4 separate regions of the Homo sapiens genome follow, and all the other regions are linked to region 1. Evidence: fine-mapped expression QTL. A gene starts in region 1. Each other region holds a variant in brackets. All regions are shown on one strand. Distances are between the middles of the regions.

Region 1 (8,102 bases):
CTTTGGCCATTTAGGGCTTCGAAAACGTTTAATTTCATGGCCATCATTTAAAACCAGATAAGGCTGGTTGTGGTGGCTCACGCCTGTAATCCAAACACTCTGGGAGGCCAACGAGGTGGGTGGATCACTTAAGTCCAGGAGTTTGAGAACAGCCTGGGCAACAGGGCGAAAACCCATCTCTAAAAAAAAAAAAAAAAAAAATTAGCTTGGCATGGTGGCTCAGTCCCAGCTATTCAGGAGGCTGAGGTGGGAGGACTGCTTGAGCCTGGGAGGTCAAGGCTGCAGTGAGCTATGATTGCACCATTGCATTCCAGCCTGGGTGACACAGAGAGACCATTTCAAAAAATAAAATAAAATAATATAAAATAATAAAAGTGGCCAGGCGCGGTGGCTCATGCCTGTAATCCCAGAACTTTGGGAGGCTGAGGCAGGTGGATCACGAGGTCAAGAGATTGAGACCATCCTGGCCAACACGGTGAAACCCCATCTCTACTAAAAATACAAAAATAAGCTGGGCGTGGTGGCGGACACCTGTAGTCCCAGCTACTTGGGAGGCTGAGGCAGGAGAATCACTTGAACCCAGGAGGCAGAGGTTGCAGTGAGCCGAGATCGTGCCACTGCGTTCCAGCCTGCTGACAGAGCGAGACTCCATCTCAAAAAATAAATAAATAAATAAATAAAATAATAAAATTAGAAGATTTCACATAAAATGCAGGTGTCTGGCTTCTCTAGGGAAGTGGGAAGATCCAGCCACATGGGTGGGCATTTCTCAGCACAACAATGGGTTCCTCCCTCCTTCCTGTGTGACGGTGCCCACTAGGCCTGTCATTCACAGCATCACTGCACCTGTCTATGTGCCCTAGGGGCAGCATTTGACTTCACAGCTGCTGACAGTTCTCCTAACCTCAACTTCTGGCCCTCTGTGGAGAACTTGCTATGAACTGTAACCTACTAAACTGCTCCTAGAAGAACTTGCTGCTCAGAGTATCCAAACCAGCAGGTGACACCTCTGCTAATAATTCACATTTGACTTTAGGTTGCATTCATTGTTTTTATTTTTGCTTTTTAAACTAACATCCTGTCCTGGTAATGTCACATGAGTGTGATGTTGATCAGGTATACCTGGGGCAGATATTCCTAGAGAGTGTGCTGCCTGGCAGAGGAAGCAATTGAGTTGGTCATTAATTTACTGGGTGGATTCCTAAATGGGGGCCTCAGAGCAACTGCTTTGGGTAACAGGGAACATCTTTGCTGTTTCTAGACCCCTGGAGAGGGCTTGGCATCCTGACAAGGAGGCCAGGATGAGCAGCTCCGTCTTTTGAATAGCTCAATCCAGCCTCAGACAGTTGAAATTAGATGTTAATCTCTGACCAGGCATAGTGGCTCACATCTATAATCCCAGCACTTTGGGAGGCCAAGGCGGGTGGATTCCCTGAGTCTAGACATTCAAGACCAGCCTGGACAACATGGCACAATCCCATCTTTATGAAAAATACAAAAATTAACCGGGCATGGTGGCATGTGCCTGTAGTCTCAGCTACTCGGGAGGCTGAGGTGGGGGTCTGGCCCCCACATCCCAGGTCTTTCTGCTACACCACACTGTTGCCATAATGACTTCGACCTCATTCTGCCATCTCCTAAGAAAGCCAGAGTGCAGGCTAGGAATGTCACCTGAGCCCAGGAACTCAAGGCTGCAATGAGTGGTGATTCCACCACTGCACTCCAGCCTGGGCGACAGAGTAAGATCTTGCCTCAAAAAACAAACAAACAGCTGGGCACGGTGGCTCACACCTGTAATCCTAGCACTTTGAAAGCTGGGGCAGGCGGATCACTTGACATTAGGGGTTCCAGACCAGCCTGGCAAACATGGAGAAACCCCGTCTCTACCAAAAAAAATATTAAAAATTAGCTGGGTGTGGTGGTGCACGCCTGTAGTCCCCAGCCACTTCAGAGGCTAAGGCAGGAGAATAGCTTGCACCCAGGAGGTGGAGGTTACAGTGAGCCGAGATCATGTCACTACACTTCAGCCTGGGTGACAAAGTGAGACTGTCTAAAAAAAAAAATACTTTTAAAAAATAATAATTTTAATAAATGCCTACATATATGCGTGTGTGTGTATATATATATATAACATTTTTTTTTGAGACAGGGTGTTGCTCTGTCACCCAGGCTAGAGTGCAGTGGCCTGACCAGGGCTCTCTGCAGCCTCGAACTTCTGGGCTTCGGTGATCCTCCCATCTCAACCTCCTGAGTAGCTGGGACCACAGATGCATGCCACCACACCCGGCTAATTAAAAAAAGAAATTTTTGTAGAGACAGGTTTTCCTATGTTGCCCAAGTTAGTCTCAAACTCTTGGGCTCAAGTGATCCTCCTGCCTTGGCCTCCCAAAGTGCTGGGATTACAGGCGGGAGCCACTGCACCTGGCCTCAAATGCCACCATATTTCTGATTCCTGTCACCTCCAGGCTCAGAGACTGTGAGTAAACATTCTGGGCAGATAATCGTTTGCAATTGCTTCCAGAGTGCTCTTTGCTGAGCTGTTAAGCTGTGGGCTAAGTGGTAAATGTCAGGTATCTCTGCTGTCGTGGGCCAGGTGCTCAGATTGCTAGGATACAGCAGGGGGTGCCGAGATGAGGCAAGGGGCCGGGTTAGGAGTCCCTGCTCTAGCACAGCGATACTAGCTGAGTCCATCGATGACCTTTAAACCCGCTTCCCCGGTTCTGTCTAGATTACAGGGTTTGGAAGGCTTTGGAAGATGTGTTCAGAGAACTTTGCCCAAACTGGCCCACGCCTGTTCCAATGCTATGCATAGCTGTTTCTGATTCTTAGCCAGCTCAGGCCCTCTATTCTTTCCATGCTGGTCTGCGGCCTCCGTTACCCACCTGCTGAGGGCGATCTTCTGGTGGAGCAGAAAGCCCCGCTCGTAGGGCCAGGGCAGGCCGGCCTCGAACCACTCTCGGCAGCGCAGCACGGGCGAGATGCAGGCGGCGCCTGTCACGTAGCTGGAGGAGCCGCACTCGCCCAGGTAGGACAGGAGCAGCGCCGAGCCCGAGCCTTCGCTCACCGCGAACAGCGGCGCCGCCGGGTGTCGGAAGCGGATGTATGTGACCGCCTCCTTGAGGTCGGACGGGTCCCCGAAAGGCTGCAGCCGGGGGCTGACCAGTGGGCAACCGTGGTGGCCGCGGCGATGGAAGATGACCGGGTAGTAGCCGCGCTCCAGGGCGAGCAAGCAAAGGCCGAGCACGTTGCGGGTGAGGCGACCCCACGCATTGGGGATCACCAGAAGCACCGCAGGAAGGCCCCCGGCGCTGGTGATCCGGCGGCCCCGAACACAAGGTCCTACCACCCAGTCCAGGGCCACTAGCCCATCGTCCGCCAACTGCAGGTACTCCCGGGCCAGCTCAGGCCCAGGCGCTACGGGCAGGACGAAGTGGCAGAGGGTCTGCAGGTGGGGCCCGGAGAACCAGGAGCGCGGGCCGGCCTCCAGCGCCTCTGAGCGCCGCAGGGCGCGCAGCAGGCACTGGGCCAGGGCCGACGGCTTGCAAACAAGGCTGCACCCTCCCGGCAGTGGCTCGCGCCCGTCGCTGAACTGGTCCGCCGGGCCTCCGCCGTCCGCCTCCTCCCCGTCGTCTCGGTCTTGGGCCCCCGGCAGGGTCCTCTCTCCGACGGCGCGCCCCCAGGGTCCCCGGAGCCGCGGGCCGAGCAGGCCGAGAAGGGCGAGCACGGCCAAGATGAGCGCGAGGGCGGCGCCCCACGGCGGCATGGCGAAGCTGGAGAGCCCCGGCGGGCAGCGGGCGGCGGGGCCGTCTACTCGGCGAGCTCCGCGCTTTGCCCGCGGCTCCGCCCGCCGGCGGCGGCTGCCCAGGGCCCTCCCGCGCGGGCGCGCTCTGGATTGGCCGTGGCCGGGCAGAGGCAGCCAGTTCGGGCCCGGCTGCCCTCGCCCGCCCCCCACCCCCGCCCCGGCCCTTTGTACAGCAATTGCAACAAGTGGGAGCAGAGGGTGAGAGGAGCCGGGGCCACCAGGGAGGGAGGGCGCGCCGGCAGCCGGAAGGGAGTGGGGAGGGCACGAGCCGGGGAGAGCGGTGTTGGCCATGGAGACGTGGGGAGACTGGAGGCCGAGGCTTGGGGACCCGACTGTCATCAGGGTCTTCCGCCAGACCCTGGGCGCTGCGCCCTCAGAGGCCGATGAAAAGAAGCAGAAGGGAGAGGTGAGTAAGTCGCAGCTCCGGGCGCCGGCTCCCGGGACCCCGTGGGGCGGCGGCCGCGCGCGCGCTCTGCCCTCGGGCGGCCCTGCTCTCCCCCGCCCGGCCCCGCAACCCCGCAATAACTTGGCTGGGCGGGGTCCGGCACTGGGCTAGAGAGGTCGAGCGCGGCGTCTTGAGCCGCTGGCGGGAGGCTGCTGCTTCCCCGCCTGCATCAGTGCGGGTCCCGTGGACTCCTCGCCCCCGTCCCCGCGAGCTCGGGGCTCCACATCAAGGAAATCCTCAGCCCGGGAGTGGCTTCCCCAGAAACAGCAGCCCCAAGCCTCCGAGAGTCAGTCGGAGAAAAGGACACACTCAGGCGCCCTGCGACAGGGATGCCCGTCCGACCTACAAGGAACGCCTCGTAAACCGGGGTGCATGGGAGACCACGGAAATAACACGTTCTCGCTGTTTCCAAGCTTTGGGATAGGCATCTCGACCCTCGCTCTCTACCCACGTTTCCCCCCCAAATCCTGGAGAGGGAACCAGAACCAGCGCCCCGCTGCGGGGCGGGCCGGCCAGCGCACCTCCTGGGGGTGAGGCCTGTGGCGTCCCCATCTCGCGGCGACCAATCTCTTTCTAGACGCGCGCCTGCCACCGCTGGGCGACGGCGGAGGTGGGGAAGACAGCAGCCTCTCGGCTAGCTCCGGCCTCCCGGGGCTTCTGGGTTTGGAGAGTTTGGGGAGCGGAGACACCTCCCGAGGCTCCTCCGCGTTGGACCCTATTTGCGAGGGCGGGAGCGGGGTGGGCCGACGGCGAAGCTCCAGAGGTGGGACCCTCTCCCTTCAGCAGCTCTTCCTGACTTCATGATTCTGCCCCTCTTCTCATTGCAGGTCACACCGACAAATCTGAAGCGGGTTTGCCAGGGGAGTGTACCCGTCTCCCCAGCCTGGGCCACCCGGTCCACAGGGATTCCATTTCCGGCCTTACACTCCGCTCCACGATCTCATCCAGGCGCTGCAGCTGTGCAGCTGCTCTACAGACTGCAGGGACCTGCTGAGACGAATCCCCGGACGAGGAAAGGGGCCCCCCGCCTGCCCTACTGAGCCTTGCGCGCTGACCCGGTTCCTACACTTAACTTTTCCGGCTTCGGGTTTAAGACGCGTGCGCGCACACTCCGCTGCTGTGGGCGGGCATTGGGGCGGGGCGATACCGGGGGCCCACTGTCTGGGGAGGGGCGCGCGCGAGCCCAGGGCCAACGGACGCGCGGGCGGCGCGGGCGGCGCGGGGGCGCTGGGGCTGGAGGGGCGGGGCGCGCGCGCTCCCTCGCTGGCGGAGCGGCTGGGCGGCGGGCCGGGCCCGGGGCCGCTTGGAATGGCGCCTCCTCCGCCTTCGCCCCAACTGCTTCTCCTGGCAGCCCTCGCGAGGCTCCTGGGTCCCAGCGAGGTAAGGTGACCCGCTCCTGGGAAGGCCTCGGCCCGCGAGCTCAAAGCGCTTTGCCAAAAGTTCGTCCTGGAAGGAGTGGCGCGCCGAGGGGGACGCGGAGTTCTTCCGCTGGCGGGCTGGGCCTGGGGAGAGAGAGGGCAGGGCCTCGCCGCGTCCAGCGCCCCAACTCTTCGCTTTGGACCCACAGGTGATGGCTGGACCGGCGGAGGAGGCGGGAGCCCATTGTCCCGAGAGCCTGTGGCCTCTGCCTCCGCAGGTAGGAGCCCTGGAGGGCCCAGGGAGAGAGGGATGTGAAAGGCTAGCCCAGTCCCGCTCTGTTCTCGCCGCACCCTCCACAGTCACCATCTGAGGACCTCTGCCGGTTCCTCAGTCCTCAGTAGCCAACTTCTCCATCCCAGCCTGGCGCTTGGGGCCTGCCGTCCCCTCCCCACCACACACACACGGAGTCCCCCAACTGCCCTAAGCTCTGTTCTTTCCCCATGTATAGGTGTCACCAAGAGTGACCTACACACGAGTGAGCCCAGGGCAGGTGAGTACAAGCAGGGGCCCACCACCCTTGGTGTCCACGCCTGGAGACAGGCGCTCCTAGCAGGCTTCGCTGCCTGTTCTGCTGATCGGCCCCATTCCTTACCACTTCCCTCAGGCAGAGGCAGGGTTCTAGTTCTCTGCCCCACCTCCAAGCCCAGGACAGATCAGCCCCAGGACAGATGGCTCAAAGACAGTGAGCCATAGGCCTGTCATCTGCAATGCTGTGTCAGGATGCTGTTGGGTAGCTGGCTCTGTGGACAAGTGGCTGTGAGTGGAACTCTCTCTGAGAGTAGCTGGAAAAAACCCAGGCTCCAGCTCCCTGAGGAGACAGCGGGAAGTCTCCTGACTTTGTGGGCCCCAGCTTTCTGTAGGAGAGGGTATTAATTCTGTCTCTACCTGTGAGCAGCGAGGGAGGGTATGTGCCAGCACCGTGTACAGTACAGAGCTGCATCGTGCAAGGAGTGTGCCTCCAGTTGCCAGGCTCCACACTGCGGGCTCAGCTTGCGTGGTAGCATCTCCATCTTCATCGCCAGCTCCTCTGAATTTTCCTTTGAAATACTTATTATTATTATTATTTGAAATGGAATCTCACTCTGTTGCCCAGGCTGGAGTGCAGTGGCACTCACTGCAACCTCTGCCTCCAGGTTCAAGCAATTCTTATGCCACAGCCTCCCGAGCAGCTGGGATTACAGGCGTGTGCCACCTAGCTTAGCTAATTTTGTATTTTTAGTAGAGACGAGGTTTCACCATGTTGCCCACGCTGGTCTTGAGCTCCTGACCTCAAGTGATCTGCCTGCCTCAGCCTCCCAAGTGCTGGGATTACAGGTGTGAGCCACCATGCCTGGCCTGAAATACCTAACTTAAATTGGCCAGGCATGGTGGCTCACACCTGTAATCCCAGTACTTTAGGAGGCTGAGGCGGGTGGAACACCTGAGGTCAGGAGTTCAAGACCAGCTTGGCCAACATGGTGAAACCCTGTCTCTACTAAAAATACAAAAATTAGCTGGGCGTGGTGGCACACCCCTGTAATCCCAGCTACTTGGGAGGCTGAGGCAGGAGAATTGCTTGAGCCCAGGAGGCAGAGGTTGCAGTGAGCCGAGACCATGCCACTGCACTCCAGCCTGGCGACAGAGCGAGACTGTCTCAAAAAAAAAAAAAAATTCTCTGTAATAGCTCCAGGCCAAGAGTTGTTGCCTCACGCCACCTATCAGATTCCTTTCCTCAAACAGCCCTTTCATGAAGTCATTCCTCTGTTCACAAACTGTCAATGGCTCCTTATTTCCCACCTTATCGTGGCCATATTCTCCGGCCTGGCTTTTCAGGCCTTACTTAAGTAAGCTTCGTCTGACCTCTCCACATCCTTGGTTCCTCTCCAGTTGTGTCGGGCTGTTTGCCACACAAATGAGTGCCAGCCTCGCCCTTACCACAGCCCCTTTGCTCCTGTTTATTCTCCTCCACACCTGGCCTATCCTGACTCGGAGAGTGCAGCTCCCTGCCCTCCTGCCATACTCCCCCAGCCATCTTCCCAGTCCCAGCTGGCATCAGCTCCCCCTGAGACACTGCCCGATGGCATCAGCCTTTATTCCTCCCCTCCTCCTCTGAATCTATCTCTGATAATTTAACAACTAATCACTAAGTTTTATTAGTTTGCTGTTTTATTTGCATTAGTTGTTTCCCTGAGTTTCTCACACACTCCTTGCAAGCAGAGTCCAGGAGTTCTTTGGCATCTCCCACAGCATCTAGCACAGCACTGAGCACCAAGTCAACTCAATCAAAGAATAATGAATGATTGATGGAGTATTTCCATCCTGAGATTGTGCACCTGCTGCCTGCCTGCCCTGTATTTGGATGCTCTTGGGAGACTGTATAGATTGGATCGATGGTCTTCATTTGGGGGTTGCTTATGGCTTGGATTGTGGACCTGTAGAGCCATCGTTACACCTGCA
Region 2 (8,102 bases), 86 kb before region 1:
AATACCACAATGTGAATGCCATGTAAATAGTTGTTACGTTATATTGGCTTTTTGTTTTATTTTTATTGTTATATTGTCATTTTTTAAAATTTTATTTATTTATTTATTTTGAGACAGAGTCTCACTCTGTCGCCCAGGCTGGAGTTCAGTGGCGCAATCACGGCTCACTGCAAGCTCCGCCTCCCAGGTTCATGCCATTCTCCTGCCTAAGCTTCCCGAGTAGCTGGGACTGCAGGCACCCACCACCACACCCAGCTAATTTTTTATATTTTTAGTATAAATGGGGTTTCACCGTGTGTGCCAGGATGGTCTCAATCTCCTAACCTGGTGATCTGCCTGCCTCGGCCTCCCAAAGTGCTGGGATTATAGGCATGAGCCACCGTGCCCAGCCAATTTTTTTATTTTTTCAATTATTTTTGATATATAGTTGGTTGAATCTACAAATCTAGAACCCACAGATGTGAAGGGCTGACTATACATATAATTCTAGAGAACACAGTTTTCTGTCTTCTAACGATGATCAATATTGTTACTATAGGTTTGTAGTAATGGAATAGTACATTTTTAAGAAATAGTGTATTTCTTTATAATTTTAATTAGTAATTATATATGAAATACACAGCTTATAGAAGTGATTATATGTTGGCATTATTAAAAGATTAATGTATCATTGGCTTGACTTTATGCATTTAACAAATCACTGAATACATAACTATTTTTTATTAAAAAATTTTAAAAATATATTATTCTGAGTAATATCTATATAACTATTTTTTTAAGGTAAATGGTGACTAGAATTTTACTTCAAACTATGTTCTTGATCTACTGTGTGAACTTATTTTATCTTAAATTTATATTAAATCTTTATAATAATATATTTTAATGCTTTTATAACTTTTCCATGTAGCTTGTAATGGAATATTGTTTAGGATCTGCTTCGGATTTACTAGAAGGTAAGTTCCCTTTGATTATTTTTTAAAAAGTATTCACAGAATAAAATGATAATTTAGACATTATTTAAATGATATTAATACCAAATAATGTAAAACTTTCCAGAAAGAGCAGAACTCTTAGTCTTGTTCAAATTCTCAGCATGGTATATGCTGTCCTTATTAAATATTATATGTTATACAGTAGCTTAAAATAGTCATGTTTTCTCATTGTGACTTTACAAGTATTTTTCTGAATTCTCTGTCATTCTGCTCCTCTTGTTCAAACCAAAGATAAGTGAGAATAAAGAGAGAACTCTGTTACTATTGTTTTTACATCACCAAATAATTATTTAATATCGTTAGCTAAGAGAAGAATTGGCTATGAACTGTACTTTAACAACTGACACAACTGCATACAAGTTATAAAGTTTAATAATCTTTATCATCTTGGAAAATAAATCTCTTCTTGCTAAGTATCAGTTTTTAAAAATTGCCCCATGTATTAGATATGTATTTTTTTAACAAAAATGTTCTGTGTATTAATTATTTTGAAATAAATTTTAAGTTCACAAAAAGCCATTACAAGAAGTGGAAATAGCAGCAATTACACATGGTGCTCTTCAGGGATTAGCCTACTTACATTCTCATACTATGATTCATAGGTAAGTGCTTTGGAAATTATATATTGATAAGTAAATGGCTTGTTGCATATACCAACTTTAGAATTTATTAACTCTAAAGTTTTTATTGGTTAAAGCCAAATAAAATAATATAAGCTCATATTTTTTTAGATTTTTCATGTCCTAAAATGAACATAGTTGTATACTTTATCTCACTAGGATAATTTTTATCTTTGCCTATATGTGCTGCTGGACCTTGTAAAAATATGTATACTTTCTAGATTTGTGGTAGAAATTTAGCTATAGAATCATTTAATTTGCAAACTGGAATGGGCATTAGAGAATCATACAGTTTTTCTTTCTCATTTTACCGGTAAAATCACTGATGTCTCAATTTGTGACTAATTTCCTAAAGGTTGCAAAGCTGAGTAGATAGAGCTAGAACTAAATCTAGATCTTTTGTCTTCTTGGTAACTGATAATGACATATTTATTCCATTGATTCTATGACATGGACGAATAAAAGCTGCTTAAGGCCAGGCGAGGTGGCTCACACCTGTAATCCCAGCACTTTGAGAGGCCTAGGCAGGTGGATCACTTGAGGTCAGGAGTTCGAGACCAGCCTGGCCAACCAATATGGTAAAACCTCGTCTCCACTGAAAATATGAAAATTAGCTGGGCTTTGTTGTAGGCATCTATAATCCCAGCTACTCGTGAGGCTGAGAGAAGAGAATCACTTGAGCCCGGGAGGCGGAGTTTGCAGTGAGCTGAGATTGTGCCACTGTACACACTGTACACTGTACCACTGTACAGCCTGGGTGACAGAGTGAAACTCTGTCTCAAAAAAAAAAAAAAACAGAAGCTGCTTAAGACTCCTTATGCTTTTGAGCTGTGGTCCTTGATAATCCTTGATAATGGATAGTAACTTTGAAGTTAAAACATTTTATAATGTATTTTTGGCACTGGTATTGGTTCTAGCTGTTTTAGAAGAAAGTTAGCATTTTCTTATTACATATATGAACCAGGCAGTACATTTTAAACTATATAATAGAGTCATTGTGAGTTAATAGGTTATCATTTTTTAACATGAGGATAAGATCTGAGAGATACCCACAAGCTAGTAAATAAGTGAGTTTTAAACTATATAATAGAGTCATTGTGAGTTAATAGGTTATCATTTTTTAACATGAGGATAAGATCTGAGAGATACCCACAAGCTAGTAAATAAGTGAGTGCCATAGTTGGAATTTCAACCTAAGGTTTTCTCAAATTTAAGATACCTCTCCATTTAAAAAAAATCAAATGGAGGAAAAATAGATTCACTTCGTGTTATGCTCTAAAATATTATAGTGAGAATTAACAAGGGCTTGGAAATTCAGCACTTTAATTTCTATTTTAATTTTTGAATGATTAAGTATATATTATAATGCTAATTAGATGGACAGTCTTATTATATAAATACATGTTTTCTTAGTTTATATAGACAGTATGTTTGCTATTTCAGAAAAGTAAATTTGGGATCATTGATACTACATTATCCATATATTTCAGTTTTTATTTTATATTTAGGAAAACTATGCTGACGTTTGGAAATGATACGAATACATCTTTATGTATTTATTTATTTTGAATAAGTCTTTTAAAAAGTTTGGAGAATAAGGTTCTTTTATATTTTCTTTTTTGTTTTTAAGTTAAGTATGGATACTCAGAAATCTTACGTATGATGAAGAGATTGTTTGCTAATTGCAATATATTTTAAAAACCATTGTTTCTACCAATAAACAGAAACTAAAATATAAACTATGCTCCAATGAACTAATTTTTTTTTACTGCTATTTGTCTTCTCTTTTAGAAAATTATTACTATATGTTTATTTGAATTCTGTAGTTTTTTGTTTTCTAATTTGAATATTAATTCTCCTTATCCCAATTGTGAGATTACCCCAGCACTTAATTATTTTGATTTCTCTTTCTCTATCCTATGAATTCTTGTTTTATTTTTATCGTTTTAAACATAATCTATTGAGGGAAAGTTAAGTAATTTTCTGTATTCCCTAAACCTAGAGATATCAAAGCAGGAAATATCCTTCTGAC[A/G]GAACCAGGCCAGGTGAAACTTGCTGACTTTGGCTCTGCTTCCATGGCATCACCTGCCAATTCCTTTGTGGGAACGCCGTATTGGTAAGAATAGTTAAAGCAGTCAGCAGCTGTTTTAAGTGTCTGTCTATGTTTAACATGAAATACAAATGAAGTGTAAGGTAAAGTACTGTCAGGAATGTTAAACTCGGCCAGGTGCAATGGCTCACACCTGTAATCCCAGAACTTTGGGAGGCCGAGGCAGACAGATCACTTGAGGTCAGGAGTTTGAGACCAGCCTGGCCAACATGGTGAGACCCCATCTCTACCAAAAAATACAAAAATTAGCCAGGCATGGTGGTGCATGCCTGTAGTCCCAGCTACTTGAGAGGCTGAGGTAGGAGAATCACTTGAACCCAGGAGGCAGAGGTTGGAGTGAGCCGAGATTGTGCCACTGTACTCCAGCCTGGGCGACAGAGTGAGACCCTGTCTCTCAAAAAAAAAAAAAGATTAAAATTTTAAAAAAAGAATGTAGGACACTAATTGAAGACATGAATTAGTGATTAGTGCTTCATTTACAAATAAGATGCCCATAAGATTGATAATTGTGTGATTGAGTTGCAAGCTGCCCTAGCCACTTTTATCATGGAGCACCATTTTTATTTGAAAGAAAGACACAAACAAACTATGATTATTCAGTCTTGGTTATTGTGGCAGATAATTTTCTTTAATAAATGACATGAGCTTATAACTTCAAGGAAAACAACGGACAATACTTGTTGCCAATAGTAAAATTCAATCTTTTAAGCAAAAATTAGACTTTTTTTTTTTTTTTGAGACATAGTCTTGCTCTCTCGCCCAGGTTGGAGTGCAGTGGTGTGATCTTGGCTCACTGCAACCTCCGCCTCTTAGGTTCAAGCGATTCTCCTGCCTCAGCCTCCTGAGTAGCTGGGATTACAGACAGCAGCCACCACACCCGGCTAATTTTTGTATTTTTAGTAGAGATGGGGTTTCACCATGTTGCTCAGGCTTCTGGAACTTCTGACCTCGTGATCTGTCCACCTCAGCCTCCCAAAGTGCTGGGATTACAGGCGTGAACCACTGTGCCTGGCCAAAAAATAGACTTTTGTAATGGGATCCTGAGACCAAAATATTTGAGAACCACTGGCCTAAAGTATATGAAATATTATAATCTGCAAACTTGAGCAGATGCAAAATATAATTCTGCCTTGGGAGCCTCTTTCTTTTGGGGTGGCTGTTACATGATAATGATGGATAGTGAAAATAAATCTCACACTATGGGCCAGGTGCGGTGGATCACGCCTGTAATCCCAGCACTTTGGGAGGCCAAGGCGGGCGGATCACCAGGTCAGGAGATCGAGACCATCCTGGCTAACACGGTGAAACTCCATCTCTACTAAAAAATACAAAAAATTAGCCAGGCATGGTGGCGGGCGCCTGTAGTCCCAGCTACTCGGGAGGCTGAGGCAGGAGAATGGCGTGAACCCGGGAGGCAGAGCTTGCAGTGAGCCGAGATTGCGCCACTGCACTCCAGCCTGGGTGACAGAGCGAGACTCTGTCTCAAAAAAATAAATAAATACAATAAATAAATAAATACATAAATCTCACACTATATATGCATTGCTAAATATTTACCTCACAACCTGTAATGCACTTAGTTCCCGTTATAAAAATTCTTATGTCCAGATATATTGGCTAGAATTCAAACCAGTGATCTCCATGTAGATGACTGTTACATTCTCAAAGGATAGAATACTTTTTAAAAAAAATCTTTAATTTAAATTAACGTTTTGTTCTAGGATGGCCCCAGAAGTAATTTTAGCCATGGATGAAGGACAATATGATGGCAAAGTAGATGTGTGGTCTCTTGGAATAACATGTATTGAACTAGGTAAGCATTGTTCTTCATTACTATGGATTAAGTTTTGATCAATGTTTTACCTCAATTTCTGTACCAATCTATAAAAATTATAGATTTTTATCTTAAATGTCACTTTATAAGGGGGGCAATACATTTATTAAGGTTTTCACTTTGGTTATTTGGTAAGTTTTATTTATATTAGGGTTACCTATATTATATTTGCTCTGTTCCATTATATCTAAAATAATTTTCCACTGTGGTTTTAATTAAGTTTGAGGAATCTATGTCTAACATTAATGAGTATTTGTTAAACACCTAGAATATGTTTATGATTACCAGATTTACCAGCTATAGAAGATCTGTAAGCCATTCATAACTAGCTGGGGTAGTTACTACTTTTTTTTTAATTAGGGATGAAATTAGATGTCAGACTGTCATACCTACATACCATTTTGTAACAGTTTGATATATATATATATACATATTTTTTTTTTTTAAGACGGTAAGGCCGACTTCATTCAACAGGGGCCATGATCCATAGGTATATGCATCACTGTAGCAGGGTCTTGCAATGAGAGAGAGAGAGAGATTGGACTGAATTTCCTGTAGCAGTTTGATTTTAAGCACACATTTTGTTAAGTTGTTCATAAATAGAACTGTGCTAAAAAGAGTGGACCATCATAACTTCTGTGAGCCAATAAACTGTCACTGTAATTGAAGATGCTGGCCGTCTTCTTGCTCTGGATTTCCCAATGGAGGTCTACCAGCCCAATAGTCTTTTCCTTTTTATCTTCTTATAAGAGCATTGCATTAAATTTTACTTATTTATTTATTTTTGAGACATGGTCTTGCTCTGTCACCCAGGCTGGAGTACAGTGGTGCAATCTCAGCTCACTCTAACCTCTGCTTCCTGGGATCAAGCAATCCTCCCACCTCAGCCTCCTGCATAGCTGGGACTGCAGGCACACACCAGCACACCAGGCTAATTTTTGTATTTTTAGCAGAGACAGGGTTTCGCCATGATGCCCAGGCTGGTCTTGAACTCCTGGGCTCAAGCTATCCTCCTGCCTCAGCCTCCCGCAGTGGGGGGATTTCAAGCATGAGCCACTGCGCTCATCTAAACCATTCTAAAAGGAGTGACTAAGGATGGAAAATAATACATTAAAAGTAAAATCTGTTGGTAATTTTGATTAATCATTATCTACTCGAGTTTGTCAGTAGTTTTCTAAAATAAGTATAGGGAAAATGAGGTAAAATGAAGGTAAAATCTTGCTTATTATTACACAGTAGATTAAAGTTACGATTTCTATTACAACCAGACTACCTTGCAGTCCAGTTTTTTTTCCCTAAAATGTAATCTTTAAGTATTTTCACTTTTGTTGGAATTCCTCTGTTAACTACTCCCTTCAAGCTCCACATCCTGCTGCTGTTTGTTTTATAGTTTAACAACATCAACAAACAGAGATTTGGAGATTACCATGTCATACTTGGGATTTCTTTGTCTTAATTTGAAGTTTGCAAAACTGTTTCTTCCATTTGAAAGTACCTTTAGGTGTCCTAAACTCTAATCTCTATTCTTTTACCTATGATTCTTTTTCCTACCCATAGGTCCTAATTTAATTTCTTAAGAAGCCTGGGTATACATGTACAGAAGCTGGTTAATGTACTCTTTGCCCATGGGGTCCTTTTACATTCTTAATGCTGGCCGATGCATACATGTGCCCCTCAGTGATAGTGAAATTGCATTAATGGACCTGCTAGATTTCATTGATATATTTTAAGATTTATTTGATTAGAAGGTATTTGTTGGCTCATTGTTGTGCTTAGAACAAAATCTACCTAAACTTTGTAGTTTCCGTGAAATGGCTTCTCCTTTCTAGCTTCTTTTTATTCTACTTCATAAAAGAGTTCCTTCACAATAGAAGTTTTTATACTTAAAGGAACTTTAGATGTGACTGCCTTTAAATAATTTTGCATGGGAGAAATATTTGAAATAATTTCTTAGAATTTTAGGCATTCATTTGGTATCTTCACTTTTGTAATCTTTCATAATAACTTTAAACATTTTACTTACAAATGTTTTGAATATTTTGAAGTGCTAAGTCAGGAACTATATTTTAAGCCTGATTATGGTTCTAGGTGAAAGGTCTAAAGTAGCACAGGCCAGGAAAACTTTCTGCAGTGAAGGAAGTGTTCTGTAGCTATGGCTTTTCAGCTAAAGGAGTGAATTTTCTAAAATTTTATTTAAATACATTTGCATTTAAATAGTCACATGTGCTAGTTAGCTACCTTTTTAGATAACACAGGTCTAGAGGTATGATTTTCGTTTTTTTTCTTTTCTTTCTTTTTTTGCGGGGTGGGAGGGAGACAGAGTCTCGCTCTGTTGTCCAGGCTGGAGTGTAGTGGCACAATCTTGGCTCACTGCAACCTCCGCCTCCTGGGTTCAAGGGATTCTCCTGCCTTAGCCTCCCAAGTAGCTGGGACTATGGGTGCCTGCCACCACGCCCAGCTAATTTTTTTATTTTTAGTAGAGATAGGTTTTCACCATGTTGGCCAGGCTGGTCTCCAACTCCTCACTTCAGGTGATCCACCCACCT
Region 3 (8,102 bases), 23 kb after region 1:
CAGGATGAACACTCAGGTGCAGGCATTGACACACACAAATTCTACCTCCATAAGGGAGGAAGAGGAGCCCAACATTTGTCCCACTCTGCAATCTACACTATGAAGAGACAAATCAGCCTGTAGCTTGTCCCGTAACATGTCCCCGGCCTTGCTCACCAGAGATACCTACAGGACAGGCATCTTGAGGCCTTCACTCTCACCCCCAGGGTTGCCAAAGTGGAAAAGGCTGAGATAGAAGCCCATGGGGTGAGGAGAGGCCCTTGACTGAGATCGTGTGGCGAGGTGGGCCAAGCCTAAGGAAAGGGGAAGATGCACATTCTCCAGGGCTCCCTGCCCCCTTCCTCTCTTGGACTCCCCAGGCAGGCAGGAACACATACGGTGCCTGACGAGGTGGCACAAGCTGCCAGAGCAGCCATGTCATGTCCAGCTGCCTAGCAACACACTCACACTTGTCCTGTGTGCCCATGCCCGGGAGCAGAGGGAGGATGGGGCTCTCTGGGGACAGGCTGCATCTCACCTCTGACCTCCATGACCCCCCAAATTAACCAAGCACAAAAAGTCCCTGGCCCCACTCCTGTGGTTAGGACTGCAGGGCTCCTATCATAATAAAAGAAGCCTGTGACCCTGGGGTGGAGCGATACACCATGGGGCTGGCACTGGATCTGGACTCCGGACTGCTGGGTACCCTCATGCCTCTCTGCCTGAGATGCCACAGGACCCAGACCAAACATGCCGCTGCATGCCAGGGCCAGCATCCTAGGGTCCAGGTGTGGGATAGTCCCAAGCAGCCAGCCAGGGTCCTAACAAGCAGCCAAACACTCAGGGAGTGCCTGCCATGTGCTGGACACCTCGCTGGGTGCTAGGTGGGCTGATGAGTAAGACTGTCCACATCCTCCCCACCCCACCATCCTCACCTTCTCACCACCTTCCTGACCTCTATTGTGAATCAGGGGAAAGGAGGCATCTGGGGCACAAATTCCTCTGACAGATGAGGACCTGGGAGGAGGAGCTGGGCAATCCAACACATCTGATGCCCACCATTCCTCCCTGAGCCCACTGGGCATCCAGAGGCTGTGGTCGGACATTCAACGCAACATACAAAGGACAACTGCCTTGCTGGTGCTGCCCTTCACCCCTCCACCCCAGAATCAGACCACAGATTCGGAGATGGCAGCCCCCCAAAAACCATTTCTACTCCAACTTCTTTGCCTCTGAATTGAGGAAGCTGAGGACCCCACAGTGAGGAAAGTCTTGTTGGGATTACAGAGTAAGCTGGGAACAAAGGCAACACTAAGCCCCAGACTCCCCCGATTGGGCGCCTGCTAAGACTCTCCTCCACATTCCATGCCATGCTTACCCCACGGAGTTGTGGAACAGTGGGGAGACATTTATAAGGCAAGGTGCATCCTCAGCCCTGCCATCCCCAGACCTGCCTGCAGCTCGGGGAACGGAGTCACAGTTTCTTAGGGGTATGGACCCTCAACCCCAGGGCCCTCTAAACCATGATAAGCCCCTAGGAGGCCTTGGTCATAACCACCTATGGAGTATTTTGTGCCCAAGCCCTGCTAAGTCATAGTTCCCAAATACTCTAGCTTGGCACCCCCAGAACCACCAGAGCATCTGTGAGGCTCAACCGGTGGGGTCCTGGGCCTGCTCAAGGGGTGGCTGAAAGTTATGGGCCCACAAACCAGCACCCCATACTCTCACTCTTAATCATGCCCACAGCCCCGCTAGAGTTCACGGACCTCCGCAGCCTGCCCAGGGGCCTACCAGGGAGATAGCTCCTTTGCTAAAGAAAGAATGGATGTGGGCTAGAGCTTCCTTCCCAGGCCAGCTGCAGAGCCCCGTCACTGGCTGTCCTCCCTCATCAGAAGGGAGCAGCCTCTTGGATCATTACCCCTGACTTCCTCAGCAGGCCTGGGGGGTTTCACTCCAGCCCAGTCCTAACTCTGTTAGGAAAAGGAAGGGAACCACCATGTAAATACAGCCAGGAGACAGGCCAGGAAGCCAGCAGGATACGGGGAATCTCGGCACGGCCTCCCACCCATTTCTGGCCAGACTGGGCTAGGGGACAGGGAGGGGCCCGCACCCAGGATAGCTTGATGCCAAGCTCACTTTCCCAAGCAGGCCTTACCGGTGAACAGGAACAGCAGGGTCCAGCCGAGCTGTTCCCAGTCACCACCAGCAGGCCTGGGGATGCCTCCCGAGAAGACACCCGGGTCTAGACTGGCCCTGAACGCCAGGCCCGGCAAGGAGCGCTAGCCTTAGGAACCCGAGGCAGGGAGTCCTGGGAGTAGCCACCGCTCATCTGCTCCTGAGGAGACGGTATTCAGGCCCCACTGGCGCATCTGCCCGGCCCTCTGCTCCTTGCCCTCCACCACCCCGGCAGGCGTACCGACCACGCGAGCAGCAGGTGCAAGACGCGGGGGTGGCACTGAGATGACATAAAACCACACTCGCCCCCACCTCCCAAGCCCTGACGGCCTCCGCCACGGCCCTCCTGCCACCCCAGGCTGGCGCTTCCGTCGGATACAGAGATGGAGGTGGAGGAGCAGCCAGCTGCCCGCCTCCCTCAGACCGAGGAGCGGGAGGCGGCGCCGGGAACGTCCTTCCTCGCTAGTCCACGGCCTCCAGGGAGCATGGGCACCCCAGGCCGGCCCTCCCGCCAAGGGCGCAGCTCCGCAGTGGCCGAGGCGGGGGCCCAGCCTGGAGGCCGCAGCCCCCCGCCCCGCCCAGCCCTCCGGCCCCGCACAGCGCTCTTGCCAGGCCCCGGCGCCCGCCCGGCGGCGGCCTGGCTGTGCGGTCCCGCCCCCGGCCCCGCCGCGCTTACCCGGGGCGCTGCAGTCCGCACACACCTCCGCTCGCGGCCCCTTTCGGGACATCCTCAGCGGCGACGCGGCCGCAGCCCTCTGGGCCAGCGTGGGGGGCGCGGGCGGCGGGCCCGGGCGGCGGCGGCGGCCCCTGCTGCCCGGCCCGGCTCCGGCGAGGCCCCGGCGAGGCTCCGCGCGCCCGGCCAACCGTCCGCCCCGGGGCTGGCCCGGAACCCGCCGTGCCCGCCTGCCCGCTCGCCCTCGGGCGCCCTCCGCCCCGCGCCGCCCCGCCGCCGCTCGCGGCTCCTCTCTCCGCCCCCTGCGCGGCTCCCGGCCGCTTCTGCAGGAAGCGGCGCAGGCCCTGCCCACAGGGGGAGGGGCCGCACCCCCGCCCCGCCGCGCGCTGCCGGCCGCGCCCCCTAGAGAAAGGAAGCCCGGGCGCGGGCAGGAGGGGGCGGGGGCGCTTAAAGGGGCCGCGGCAGATGCCCGGCCCCGGCGGGCAGCGTGGCCTGCGGCCCTGGCCTCCGCTGCAGCGCTCGCCTGGCCCGGAGGCAATGTGAGTCACCCTCACAGCCCCCTCCCCTTCACTTTCCGCGTGGGGTGGACCGGGGGACGCTGGGCCCACGGACGGCGAGGGTGGGGATTAGGGAAGAAGGACTTGGAGGCCCAAGTCCCGCTCCAGGTCAAAGGGGCTGTGCCTTGGGGTACCCGTCTATCTCTGGTTGGGGTGAGGTGTGCGTCCCTGTCCCGTAGGTGTCCACATCTGTGTGTCCAGGGGTGTGTGTGTATGTGTCACACTCTTGCTGAATACGCCCACTGCTAACAATATGGACGCCCAGGTGCCAGAAAGGTCAGGCAGTGTATTCCCCTGCCTCCGGACTAAAAATATATCTATCTCTCCATGCATCCTTCCATCCAGAGAGGAGAGAATCTGGGCGGTTTTTAAAGACCTCCCGAGGAGTGACCACTGTGCCTGTGTGCACTCACATCCACTTGTCATCCGCCTTACACACACCCACGGTGTTTCTGGGCCACCAGAGGTGTGTGTGTCCAGAAAGGGTGCATATAACATAGAGGGGCCGTTTCAGGTGACGGCCTTTCTTCCTGGACTTCACACGACGAGGCAGGCAAAGGCAAGGCAGGTGAGGGACGTGGGTGGGCTGGGGGGCAGGGAGCCTAGGTAGAGGCCGCACATGAGCGCAGCCCCCGCACTGAGCATGCGCCCCCATACGCGTGTGCCGCGCGTGTACCCAACCCCCAATCCCTGCAGCAGCAAAAGGCCCGGGCACTCTGCTTGTGGGGAGAGGGTAGAGGTCCCCAGGGCCAGACCTGGGGGCCAGGTCAGTGGTGACAATTGAGGAGGGGTTCTCCAAGAGTCAGAGACTCCTGCTTGTTAAGATGGGGGCAGTCCTTTGGCAGGGGTGCTCAAGTTGGTCGATTATCCCA[A/G]CGGTGCCAGAGCGGCAGTGATTTGTGGGTGGGCAGGCTCCTTCCCTAGGGGAGACAAGTAATGCTCATGAGTCACACCACCCGAAATACATGCAAAGCTGCCTCCATCGCCTTTTGCTGCGGCCCAGATTGACAAGTTTGTTTGAAATCGCGATCCATGGGCTTTATTTATAATTGCACCTTAAAAAAATCTTGCAGGCCTCCCCTCCCTCGACAGCCAGCCGCTCAGCTGGTGGGGCTTTTGCAAGCAACGATACCTAGCTGGTGTGTAGGGGGGAGCACCACCTGCCGCCCCGAGCTGCTCTCTCACCAGAGTCCATGGGCTTGGTGGCCTCAGCGGGAAGGGGGTAAGGGGCGGGGGGAGTGAGACGGGAGGAGTGGCCAGGCAGCCCGTGCCAGGCGCTCAGTCCACGAGCGGTGGCCGCCCGTTCACCCCCGATCGACCCCCAGCTATGGAATTTCATTTATTAAATGTCGAGGAGGCTGCTGGCAGCCCTGCCGCTTGGCTGTCTTTGTTTCTCCGCTGTGTGGGCGCGTCTCGAGCACGTGGCAGCTGAGAGCGCGGGCCGAAGCGCAAGCGACCTGGGTTCAGTGTCTACCGCCGCCTGGCAAAAAAAGAACACGGCCGCCCAGGGGACAGTTCCCCACAATCGACAACTCCCCACAATCCATCCTGAACTCCCCCTGTCCTCGGACTCCTGGGCTTTGCTGGGGAAGAAGGATGATTCACTCTGCTTACCCCTCCACCCCACTCCCCATCTCCTGGTTGGCTCAGAGACTACCTGGGAGTGGCCCTGGCGCGGACACATCGTCCAAACTTTGTTTCCCCCAGCCCCGTCACAGCCAAACTTCTGGGCCTGGGACTGGAGATAAAAGGGTTTCTGGATTCCCCCGTGGAGATGTCACCACCCCAGGAAGCAGGACTGCTACAGTGGAATCACACACAAGGTTCGAAAAACAATTTAATAAGGAAATGCACAGGCATGCTCCCGGCCACTCCTAGATGCCCCTCAACCGCGCCAGCCCCCTCCCCTGCACTGGCTGCAGCCACGACACTCTGCTGACCCCTGGTGGTGCAGGCGGGCAGCGGTCCCGGGCCCCCGGAGACGCCAGCTGGCTCCTCCCAGGCGGGAGAAAGGGGCGAGGCAGCCCGCTCCTCCCTCATCTCTTCCCGCTGGGGCCTGGCACCACAGGGTGTGGAGGAGGAAGGAGGGAAGACCACACAAAGAAACCTGAGAGAGTTTGCAAGCTTTTGCTGGCACCTCCCACACAAACACTTCTTGGATTGTTGTTTTAAGTAGGGCCGGTGTGGAATCCCTTATTCCTGCCTTGTTCTGAGGTGGGCTCAAGAAGGCACCGTGCCTGGTCCCGCCACCTGTCTCGGCCCGCCTGGTTGGGGGAGGGAGGCGCTGTTTCCAGGGCAGTCATTATCCTTAGCTCACCCCAGGAGGTAGTATCTAGATTCTCATTTTGAAGGGGAGTGGACCGAGAAAGTCGGAAAAATTAAGCAGTTTGCTCTTTTAAGGTCAGGCAGTTGGAGCTATTCGAACTCTGGTCTCTCTGACATCACAGTCCCCTCCCTCCAGGGACTGGTCCAAGCCTCTTGGTCCTTCCAGGCCTTGCAATTGGCGCTTGAGAGGCCAATTCAACTTTTACCACACCCTCTGCAGGGACCATTCTGGAAGTACCTCTTCACCCTGGGGTCATTCAGGAAGGAGACAGTCTCTGGAATCAGTCACTTCCCTTCCTGAAGGGCCAGCTGGGTGGAGGAACGGAGCTGCCACCTGCTGCTTTTTCTGTCCAACCTCACTCTGGTTCTTGCTGGGGACAGTGTGCGGGGGGAAAGGGACCATCTTTCCCGCGTTACTGGACATTCTGTTTCCAATGACATGTGTGGAAGATGGAGTTTAATTTTCTAACAGGGCAGGGAAGACTCCTCAGAAATGTTCCAGGGGCCAGACCCCTGGCTGCTCCAATGACCCTTGGTACTGATGCCCCACACCTTTCTCAGGAGTTCCCAATCAGACGCTCTCTTCTGGGAATCCGGATCCTTCTTCATGGCCCCTGGGACCCAAGCTCAATTCTGAAGACCACACCTCCACCCCGTCTCCCAAACGCTCGACCTAGGCCCGTGCCCCCCCACTTCCCCAGCAAAAGGCAAAATGCCAGCGGGGGAGGTGCGTCCCAGCCCACCTGGCGTCAGGGCCCCGCCCGCGTCTGGGCCAGGCCTGACTCCCCGCCCACTCTCCCACGAGATCCGGGGACAGTGCAGACCCTCTTCGGCCACCTGCCACCCCCAGTTTCACGAGGCGGACTACAAACCCCATGATGCCGCGGGGCTGAGCTGACAAGCTCTACCCGGGGCGCCTGGTCCCCTTCCTCTCTCCCCATCATCCCCACATCCCCGTATCCCGCGCCGGCCGCTCGGGCTGAGGGCCGGGCTATGCAGCTGTGGGGACCCGGGGGCTGCGGGCGCGCGTCCCTGCGGCGGCGTCCCCGGGGCCCGCGTCCCGTGCGCCCCCGCGCCCGCTGCGGGCGCCTGCTCCCTCCGCCGAGCGGCGTCTTTGTGTGCGGGGGTGTGGGAGGCGAGCGCGAGTCCGCGCAGCGCCGCCGAGTGCCCGCTCCCTCCCAGGGCGGGTGGGGGCCTCTCCGCGCCGCCCGCCGCCGCCGCCTCGCGAGGACGCCCGTCGCCCGCGCCGCCCGCACCGCGCCGGGCGCGCCGCCCCCGCCCGCCGCCGCTCGCACATGCCCGAGCCGCAGCCCCGCGAGCAGGCAGCGCCGGCCCCCCGCCCCGCGGCCCCGGGCCCCGGCTCCGGCGCCGTCCCTCCTCCCCGGCCGGGCGCCGCGGCCCCGGCATGAGGAGCGGGCGATGATCCCCGCCAACGCCTCCGCCAGGAAGGGGCCCGAGGGCAAGTATCCGCTGCACTACCTCGTGTGGCACAACCGCCACCGCGAGCTGGAGAAGGAGGTCCGCGCGGGCCAGGTAGGAGCGCCTTCGGGGCGCCGCGGGGACCCCGCGGCCGGGCACGCCCGTCCGGCCTGGGGAGGGGGTGCGGCGCGGGCTGTCCCGCCTCCCTGGCGAGTTTGCGGCGCGTCTTTGTTTGCGGCCGCGGCTTTTGTGCTTGTTGACCGGGAAAGGGTGATCCCCTCCGGCCGGGACGGGCGGGACCACACGTGTTTCGGACTCACCTAGATGAGAGTAGAGGCCTCTGTGCCCCTCCTCCGCCGGGGCAGTGAGGGCTGCAGGGAGGGGCTGCGGGCTGTGTCGGTGTTCCATGTGGTGGGAGAGTCCGCCCCAGCCAGTTGAGCGGCGACACCTCCCGAGTGAGGGTGCGGAGGTGGGAAAGGCTTGCGTGGGGAGGGGGCCATAGGTCAAGAATGGGGAAGAGGCTGTGTCACACTCCCAGGCACCCCAGCCCCACCCAGCGCCCTCTCCCCAACGGTGAGCGCTTTCTCTTTTAGCTCTCAAACTGGGCAGATCCTTGGATCTCTCAGAGCCCAGCCCCAGCTCAGGAACAGGGAGTGGAGAAAGACCCTCTTGGGAGGCCCCAAGGGCCTTGTCCAGGTGCTGAAAAGCGCTCTCCTGCCCTCTGGTGCTGGGGCCTGGTTTCTAGGCGCAGAGGAAGCTGAGGGGCCCTGGCTGCTGGAAGGACTTGAGGTTCTGCGCACCAGGTGGGCTCCCTGGTTTCTGCTGGTCAGTAAGGCCACGTGGGTCACCAGCTTTGGGCTGGGCAGTGGTCTCCAGAAAACAGGGGAAGGGGGGATGTCTTCTGGCCATGCTTCAGGATGTCTTCTGGCCATGCTTCAGAACAAAGGCAGGCACAGGTCACAGATTGCCACTTCTGC
Region 4 (8,102 bases), 110 kb after region 1:
GAAAATGCTGTCATTTATCGTTGTTACTGCTGTTTGGTTTTACTTGTTACTTAGGAATAGATAAGTCAATTGTCTTTAACTGAGCCTTAGTCAAAGGGGGTCATAAATTTCCTGTTTTCCATGAGAAACTTACCTGCAAAATATGCCCTAACTCTAAAAATCTGGTCTAAACACATGACCTGAAACTGTCCTATCTCAATCACTGCAGGAAATGATAAGACTTAATTTTTCAGTGAGTCTTTGGATTCCACCCACCTCCATCCTATCAATTCTGTTTTCAGGGGTAGATTATCTCCCTGGGGTCTTTTTCAGGCTCTTTTATTTCTTGTTTTGCTTGCATTCTATCCATTCCGCTCCCCATGGGGACTTCTACTACCTAACAGGCAGCTGAATAGGAAACTGAAATTCAAATCCCTGACTGGGGAATGGATTCTGAATCTTAGTCACATCATTCTCTGGTTGTATTAGATAATTTTCTAGATAATCTAAAATAAGAGAATAAGAGGCCAGGTGCAGTGGCTCACACCTGCAATCTCAGCACTTTGGGAGGCCAAGGCAGGAGGACGGCTTGAGGCCAGGAGTTCAAGACCAGCCTGGGCAACACAGAGAGACCCCCGTCTCCACAAAAAAAATTAAAAAAAAAATTAGCCAGGTGTAGTGGCACATGCCTGTAGTCATAGCTGCTTAGGAGGCTGAGGTAGGAAGAACACTCGAGCCCAGGAGTTGGAGGCTGCCATAAGCTATGATTGCACCACTGCACTCCAGCCTGGGCGACAGAGGGAGACCCTGTCTCTTTAAAGGAGAGAGAGAGAGAGATATGAGAGAGAGAGAGAGATCTATCCTGTCTAAATGTAAGAAATACTCTCAGGGCAGTTATGTAACCCATCCAAAGCATGTTTTCTCACCCATAATAAGGGGCTAATAATATTATTTTGGGGGCTTGGTATGATGATTAAATATAATCCATGCAAAGCATCTGGCATGTAGTAAATAGCCCTGAAATGTCCATATGCCAGCTGATGGTTATTAGCAAGTATAATGTTTTCTCTAGGCTTTATTTGCATTATGCAAATAGCCACCAGCAGTTTAAATGGAAATTTATTTATCCATAAAGTAACGAATGCTATCCCTGGTTACCTTAGGAAATAGCTAATGCAGGCCAGGCGCAGTGGCTACGCCTGTAATCCCAGCACTTCGGGAGGCCAAGGCGGGGTCAGGAGTTCAAGACCAGCCCAGCCAATATGGTGAAACCCTGTCTCTACTAAAAAATACAAAAAAATTAGCCAGGCGTGGTGGCACATGCCTGTAGTCCCAGCTACTCAGGAGGCTGACGCAGGAGAATCGCCTGAACCCGGGAGGCGGAGGTTGCAGTGAGCCGAGATCGCGCCACTGCACTCCAGCCTGGGCAACAGAGTGAGGCTTCGTCTCAAAAAAAAAAAAAGAAAAAAAAGAAATAGCTAATGCATAGCAATGTGATGTTCTAGATTTGGCTCTTAGTCCACTAACTAACTTAGTCAATATGTCCCTAATAAAACTCGGTATCAACTGGCTTATCTAAACCGTTAAGTCTCTGCCAGAGCCTAAGAATAACACCTCTGAATTCCTCTGAATTTCACTTGTTCACCAATACTCAAGGCCTTCCAATTGCAACAATTTGAATATTGCATTTCTAGGTCATCTTTAACTACGATGGTTATACAAACAGATCATTTAGCATTTTCATAGCAAACTGTACCATTTCAAACATTTCTTACAAAATATTCCTCCAATAACATTAAAACACTTTTGTAGAGATAGTAAAAGTCATCTTACCACATTGCCTGCACAGATACAGGTTTGAATATGTGAACTCTGTTATCCGTCGATACACTGAACCCACTAAGGACAAATGAGAACAAGACAAAAATCCACAAATTAGGGTAGGTTATTTGAATTGTGAGTTTTCATGGATGTATCCCAGGCTAAAAACAACTGGCTCCGTAGAGGGAATCATCAGGCATTTCACGTAGAAGTTTTAACTAGAGTGTAAGACTTGACCAAAAAGCTTTGACAAATTGTCTGACTTCATCTACCAGGCAAAATGAATGGATTCCTATATTGGAGTTAGAGAATTCAATACAGTTTCCCAGCTGTAGCTATGGACAAACTGTTCTGTATATTTCTATTTGGAAGTCTTGTGGGTTCTTAGCAAACCTGACCCTGGTTTTATAAACTGGAGCAAACATCTTGGTCTCTTGGGGACACATTCTAAAAACATTAGGAGGTAGGGTGGGGGTGGGGTCACTGGAAGGAACTGGCACAGGAAAGGGGTTATACTGTAGGCTGACAGCTGGCAGAGGCAGCAAGAGGTTATTTGAAACAGAACATATCATCCTTTGGGAGAGCATTGCAACAGTCCCACATACTCAGATTAAAGAGCCAACAAACTAGTTCTTCTTTGTCTTGATTCCTACCACAGTCGGCCTAGAAGAACAGAAGTGAGAGACCCTGGCAAGTTGTATTTTTACTCCACTTTACAAAACAGGAGTTTAAAAGGACTCATTCAGCTGTTGACATGAAAGTTCAGTTGGCACACTGGGCCTCCCTTTTAGCTGAATGAATGTGCAGTAAGATGGAGCCCCACCCCTTGGCTTTCTGTAACAGAATAAAAAAGGAAATCTCTTACCCATCACCATCCAAATGAATTAGCGTGTCGCTCCAGAGAGGCAAAACTAAGCCCATGGTACAAGTGCTACTGCAAGACAAGAAGTAGTCCAATAGTTACTCCCCATTACTCTGGGAAGCAGTCTTCTGTTTACTAACTCTTTCAACACCAAGGATAAACCCTTAAATTCTAAATTCTGGCATAAGTGTTACAATGAAGAAATTTCTATCATATTATTATTAATCTTATGTATGTCCTCAGGAGCTGTTTTAAAGAGATAGTCAGTCAGTTCCTTAAATATTTAATGAAGAAAACTTACTGACTCAGCTTCCTACATTGTCATCTTGCAAATGGCCACTATCTAAAAAATGCAGATGATTGCTGCTGACTTGCATTTGGCAGGTCTTAGCACATAGTACAGTGTCCACCTCGACTCCAAGGATTTTTTTTTTTTTTTTTTGAGATGGAGTCTTACTCTGTTGCCCAGGCTGGAGTGCAGTGGTGCAGTCTCAGCTCACTGAAACCTCTGCCTCCCAGGTTCAAGCAATTCCCCTGCCTTAGCCTCCCCAGTAGCTGGGATTACAGGCGAGCGCCACCACACCTGGCTAATTTTTCTGTACTTTTAGTAGAGATGGGGTTTCACCATGTTGGCCAGGCTAGTCTCGAAGTCCTGATCCACCCACCTCAGCCTCCCGAAGTGCTGGGATTACGGGCATGAGCCATGGTGCCCAGTCCCAAGGATTATTTTTAATGCCAATAACTATTGCTGGTTGCTGGAGAGCTTGGGATGTGTTATTTGCCTCTAATTCTGAGGTTTACATAGATTTACTTAACACCAGAACACACTCAATAGTCTAAAAGGCAAAGGGAATTAAAAAATGTAAAGAAGTAATTGTTAATAGTTTGTGATCAAGATAGGCAAAATAGACATAACAAAACTTAAATCAATGAAACACTGCTTTGTGACTGTGCACTGAACTAGCACTGCTGAAACACAGTTAATAGAAATGTCAACAACCAAGAAAAGGGTAGCCCTAGTATGGTATTTAAAAATACTATTTCTTTTTTTTTTTTTTTTTTTGAGACAGAGTCTCCCTCTGTTGCCCAGGCTGGAGGACAGTGGCATAATCTTGGCTCACTGCAACCTCCACCTCCTGGATTCAAGTGATTTTCCTGCCTCAGCCTCCCGAGTAGCTGGGATTATATGCATGTGCCACCATGCCCGGCTAATTTTTGTATTTTTAGCAGAGATGAGTTTTTGCCATGTTGACTAGGCTGGTCTCAAACTCCTGGCCTCAGAGTGATCCACCCGTCTCAGCCTCCCAAAGTGTTGGGATTACAGGCATGAGCCACTGCACCCGGCCTAAAATGCTATTTCAATCTCACATTAGCCCAGGAAGGGCTTTAAGTTAATGGAAGAGGTTCGTACAGAAAGCCATGGACCCCTGATTGTATGCTCTATCACATCTCTTCTCTGGGAAACAGTAACCTACCCTAGGCTACTGCCACTATCTCTCCTTAACGCTGCTGTAACTGCTTTCCCACTCTGGCTAGTCTCCGAAAGGCTTCCATGATGCTCCATGCCAATCTATCTAGAGCGGAAGCATGGTGTACTAGAAAGAATCTGGCATAACCATACTGTGGAAAAGCACAGTATGGTTAAGAGCTCTGGAACCTGGGTTCACAGTATGATTATGGGCTCTGGAACCTGGTTTCTTGCACTAACTGTATAATCTTTTTTTAAAATTTATTTTTATTTTTTTTTTTATTTTTAAGATGGAGTTTCACTCTTGTTGCCCAGGCTGGAGTGCAATGGTGTGATATCGGCTCACTGCAACCTCCACCTCCTGGTTCAAGCGATTCTCCTGTCTCAGCCTCCTGAGTAGCTGGGATTACAGGCATGCACTACCACGCCCAGCTAATTTTGTATTTTTAGTAGAGATGGGGTTTCTCCATATTGGTCAGGCTGGTCTTGAACTCCCAACCTCAGGTGATCCACCCGCCTTGGCCTCCCAAAGTGCTGGGATTACAGGCGTGAGCCACCG[C/T]GCCCAGCAACTGTATAATCTTAGGCAAATTACTTAACTGTCTTGTGCCTTAATTTCTTCATTTGTAAAACTGGGATAAAAATATCTTCTTCATTGTACTGTTTTGAAGATTAAATAACAAATAAAAGAGTAAAATAGTGTCTAAGTGCCTAAAATGTAATAGTCATTACCATTTATTGAACATCTACTATGCCAAAAGATCTGGGATTGATTTCCTTCAGTATTACAACTTTTTTTTAAACAAATTATTTAACCTCTCTCAGCCTTAATTTCTTCATCTTGAACTGTGAATAATAAAACCTATTCTCATAGATATAGGTATAAAGACATAACATACTTAAAATAAAACAATATATGTGAATATACTGTCCTGTAAAACAAATGTTGAATATGAATCTGTAATGGGTGCTCTAATATATCTGAAAGTGATTGGGGGAAGGGGAAACCATTATGCTTTAAAAACAACATAATGAATACCAAACTTTAACTGTTAGTCACTGCAGGGTTAAAGGAGGCTAGCCCTTAGTTGGGCTTTCCACTACACTTGCTGGCCTGTGCTGCTTAACACCTTAAGAGTGATTCCAGGCCAGGCACGGTGACTCATGCCTGTAATCCCAGCACTTTGGGAGGCCGAGGTCAGGAGTTCAAGACCAGCCTGGCCAACATGGCGAAACTCCATCTCTACACTAAAAATACAAAAATTAGCTGGGTGCAGGGGCAGACAGACACCTGTAATCCCAGCTACTCGGGAGGCTGAGGCAGGAGAATCACTTGAACCTGGGAGGTGGAAGTTGCAGTGAGCTGAGATTTGCGCCATTGCACTCCAGCCTGGGAGACACAGCAAGACTCCCTCTCAAAAAAAAAAAAAAAAAAAAAAAAAAAAAGAGTGATTCCAGAGCTCAGGAGATTCAAATCAAGACTGAAACAGCTTATCCACATTAGAACCTGGACCTGAACAACAGAAACACAGCTACCATGCCAGAGTCCAGGAGCAAGACAGCTCTACCACAAGTTTTGTTGAGTAGATGAGATGAGCGCACAAAAAAATTTGTTTTGAAAACGGCTTCCCAAGATGAAGTGGGGATAGTTTTACAGTAGCTTTTTGTTTTGTATTTAGTGAGTGCTTAGCCAGGTTCTTAGCAACAAGTATAATTTTGAGTATAAATATGGTGGGTTGGTAGCCCAATGACAAATCTAGAAATTAACTATATAAAAAGATACAGAAGCTGCAAAAGAGTGTGATCTATAAGCTTGTGACCAGATTTTGGTTAACCTTTGGACAAGTGACATTGATATACAGGAATCGACATTACATTTTTGGCTTGTATTCAGGCCAGAGTGCTTTTTTACATTAAGAAGTAGCTTTTTCAGCAGGGCGTGGTGCCTGTAATCCCAGCACTTTGGGAAGCAGAGGCGGGCGGATCACGAGGTCGAGATAGAGACCATCCTGGTCAACATGGTGAAACCCCGTCTACTAAAAATACAAAAATTAGCTGGGCATGGTGGTGTGCGCCTGTAGTCCCAGCTGCTTGGGAGGCTGAGGCAGGAGAATCGCTTGAACCCAGGAGACGGAGGTTGCAGTGAGCTGAGATTGCACCACTGTACTCCAGCCTGGCCACAGAGTGAGACTGTCTCAAAAAAAAAAAAAAAAAAAAAAAAAAAAAAAGTAGCTTTTTCACGCAACAGGAAGGAAAGGACTGAATAAGGCACGCTTGGTATTTTTATCCAGGTTACCTCAGTCTCTCAAGATTTTTCTCCATTTAAGTATAACTACTTATTTTAGTAAATATTCAATTCATTCAATAAAAATTTATTTAGTGCCTACTATGTACCAGACATTTCAAGGTGTTAGGGGTACAAAAAGAAATGGAAAAAAAAAACCCCAAAAAACCATGAAGCTCTATTATTTTATAACTTAAAATATGTTACACTTTAGAAACCAAGATTATGCTGCATATTTAAAAAATTATTAAAATATAACATAATACTCAAAGAACTTGTAAATGGGCTAAATGAATTGGCTGCAACGTATTATTAAGAACTATTTGTACTTGTCATAATCTGGGTTCCACTTTGGCTTAATACTATTTTGAAGCATTAACATTTACATTCTCAGATATGAAATGATACAAATTCAAATTCCTTCAACAACAACTGAGACAGAAATGATTTTAGATTACCTGAGCATCTGAGACTTCTTACTGTCCAAGGAACTCATTAAAGCAGAGGATGTATGGGAATTTCATAATAGCAAGTTTAGCAAACAGAATGAAAACTAGTTTCTAGCTTTTCATGTTTTAAGTTTGTCTTCTATAAACTATAATTTCCTTTGGCTAGTGACACTGGTCAGATATGATTCAGACAGGGCCATTGGCAAAAGATAGATGTAATTTACTGAGTATAAACTACTGGATACCTATATTAATATGCATTCTTTCTGGTAAAGTTTAGGACAAAGTGAAAGAGAAATGATTAGACATGTGCTTGCTCATATTCTGGGTCAGGAGAATCTGCAGTTATTGTCTTCTGTCTCTAGGGGAAGATTCAATTGAAGCTTCATGAGGTTCCTGTTCCTGTTTTATAGGGTTTTCAAGGGAGGGGGTCAGGGAGAACTGAACAAAGGAAATATGAGCTAGAACAGTGCTGTCCAACTGAACTTTCTGCAAGAATGGAAAATGTTCTATACATGTACTGTCTAATACGATAGCCACTAGCACATACGGTTACTGAATACTTGAAATGTGACTAGTTAGAACTGAGGAATTGAAATTTCATTTAATTTTAATCTATTTAAAAAGACACGTGCATGCTGTATGCAGTGGCTCATGCCTATAATCCCAGCACTCAGGAAGGCAGAGGCAGGAGCTCAGGAGTTGAGACCAGCCTGGGCAACACAGAGAGACTGTGTTCTTCACAAAAAGGAAAAAAGAAAAGAAGAGAAGAGAAAAGGAAGGAAGATGAAAGAAGGAAGGAAGGCAGGCAGGCAAGAAGGAAGGAAGGGGCACATATGGTTAGTGGCTACTATACTGGACAACACAGATCTAGAAAGATTAAAAACCTAAATTAGAGGTCCTAAAATCCTAATGAATGTAAACAAGGTAGGTGCTGTTATAGGAAAATGCTTACTGAAAGCTCTGTTGCTTAATCAGAAGTTAAAACCATGCAGGAGAAATCTTCCTAAATCTGGTTTACAAGCCTGTGTAAATTCAGAGCCTACAATTAAATGCTGTTAAGTGGTATACAAGCTAATAACTTTGGCTTTGGGAATTCCTGTGAACCCCCAAGTCATTTTCAGGTTGACTTCTATATAGGAATAAGGTAAACATTGGTTTGGGAAACTTTCTAGTGACAAAGTGATTTTTTCCCCTCAACATCAGGAAAATTAGAATCATTCCCAGGCTCCTCCTCTCTTT

Direction of the effects. Alleles are on the strand shown, and positions count from the first base shown. SD is a standard deviation of normalised expression in the study named. Not every link is listed here.
For the expression in monocytes of the gene that starts at base 3,834 in region 1, G is the low allele of the variant in region 3 and A is the other (small effect, 0.38 SD a copy in Fairfax 2014).

Evidence for each region.
Region 2: its variant is fine-mapped to the expression of ABHD15 in lung (TOPMed, PIP above 0.99).
Region 3: its variant is fine-mapped to the expression of ABHD15 in monocytes (Fairfax 2014, PIP 0.95). The same link has a PIP of 0.9 or more in Th17 cells.
Region 4: its variant is fine-mapped to the expression of ABHD15 in whole blood (INTERVAL, PIP 0.95).

Annotation. Positions count from the first base shown.
Region 1 is chr17:29,563,204-29,571,305 of GRCh38, forward strand. ABHD15 (abhydrolase domain containing 15) reads right to left here and starts at 3,834. Exons shown (of 2, transcript NM_198147.3): 1 at 2,883-3,834. The coding sequence starts at 3,763. It overlaps TP53I13 (tumor protein p53 inducible protein 13), which reads left to right and starts at 5,498. Exons shown (of 7, transcript NM_138349.4): 1 at 5,498-5,627; 2 at 5,815-5,883; 3 at 6,115-6,156. The coding sequence starts at 5,556. RefSeq lists enhancers at 2,775-2,884, 4,905-4,954, 6,038-6,538 and silencers at 3,405-4,024, 4,115-4,374, 5,375-5,734.
Region 2 is chr17:29,476,754-29,484,855 of GRCh38, forward strand. It overlaps TAOK1 (TAO kinase 1), which reads left to right. Exons shown (of 20, transcript NM_020791.4): 5 at 908-953; 6 at 1,498-1,594; 7 at 3,615-3,728; 8 at 5,444-5,535. Among named protein-coding and RNA genes, the nearest start is that of ABHD15, 86 kb to the right of the region's middle. The variant A/G (reference allele first, on the strand shown) is at 3,645.
Region 3 is chr17:29,586,497-29,594,598 of GRCh38, forward strand. GIT1 (GIT ArfGAP 1) reads right to left here and starts at 3,152. Exons shown (of 20, transcript NM_014030.4): 1 at 2,831-3,152. The coding sequence starts at 2,882. ANKRD13B (ankyrin repeat domain 13B) reads left to right here and starts at 6,636. Exons shown (of 15, transcript NM_152345.5): 1 at 6,636-7,239. The coding sequence starts at 7,126. RefSeq lists enhancers at 1,434-2,333, 3,233-4,132, 7,755-7,824 and silencers at 2,551-2,740, 3,001-3,480, 5,241-5,430. The variant A/G (reference allele first, on the strand shown) is at 4,257.
Region 4 is chr17:29,675,008-29,683,109 of GRCh38, forward strand. It overlaps SSH2 (slingshot protein phosphatase 2), which reads right to left. Exons shown (of 16, transcript NM_001282129.2): 7 at 2,666-2,734; 8 at 1,813-1,878. Among named protein-coding and RNA genes, the nearest start is that of SSH2-AS1, 40 kb to the left of the region's middle. The variant C/T (reference allele first, on the strand shown) is at 4,690.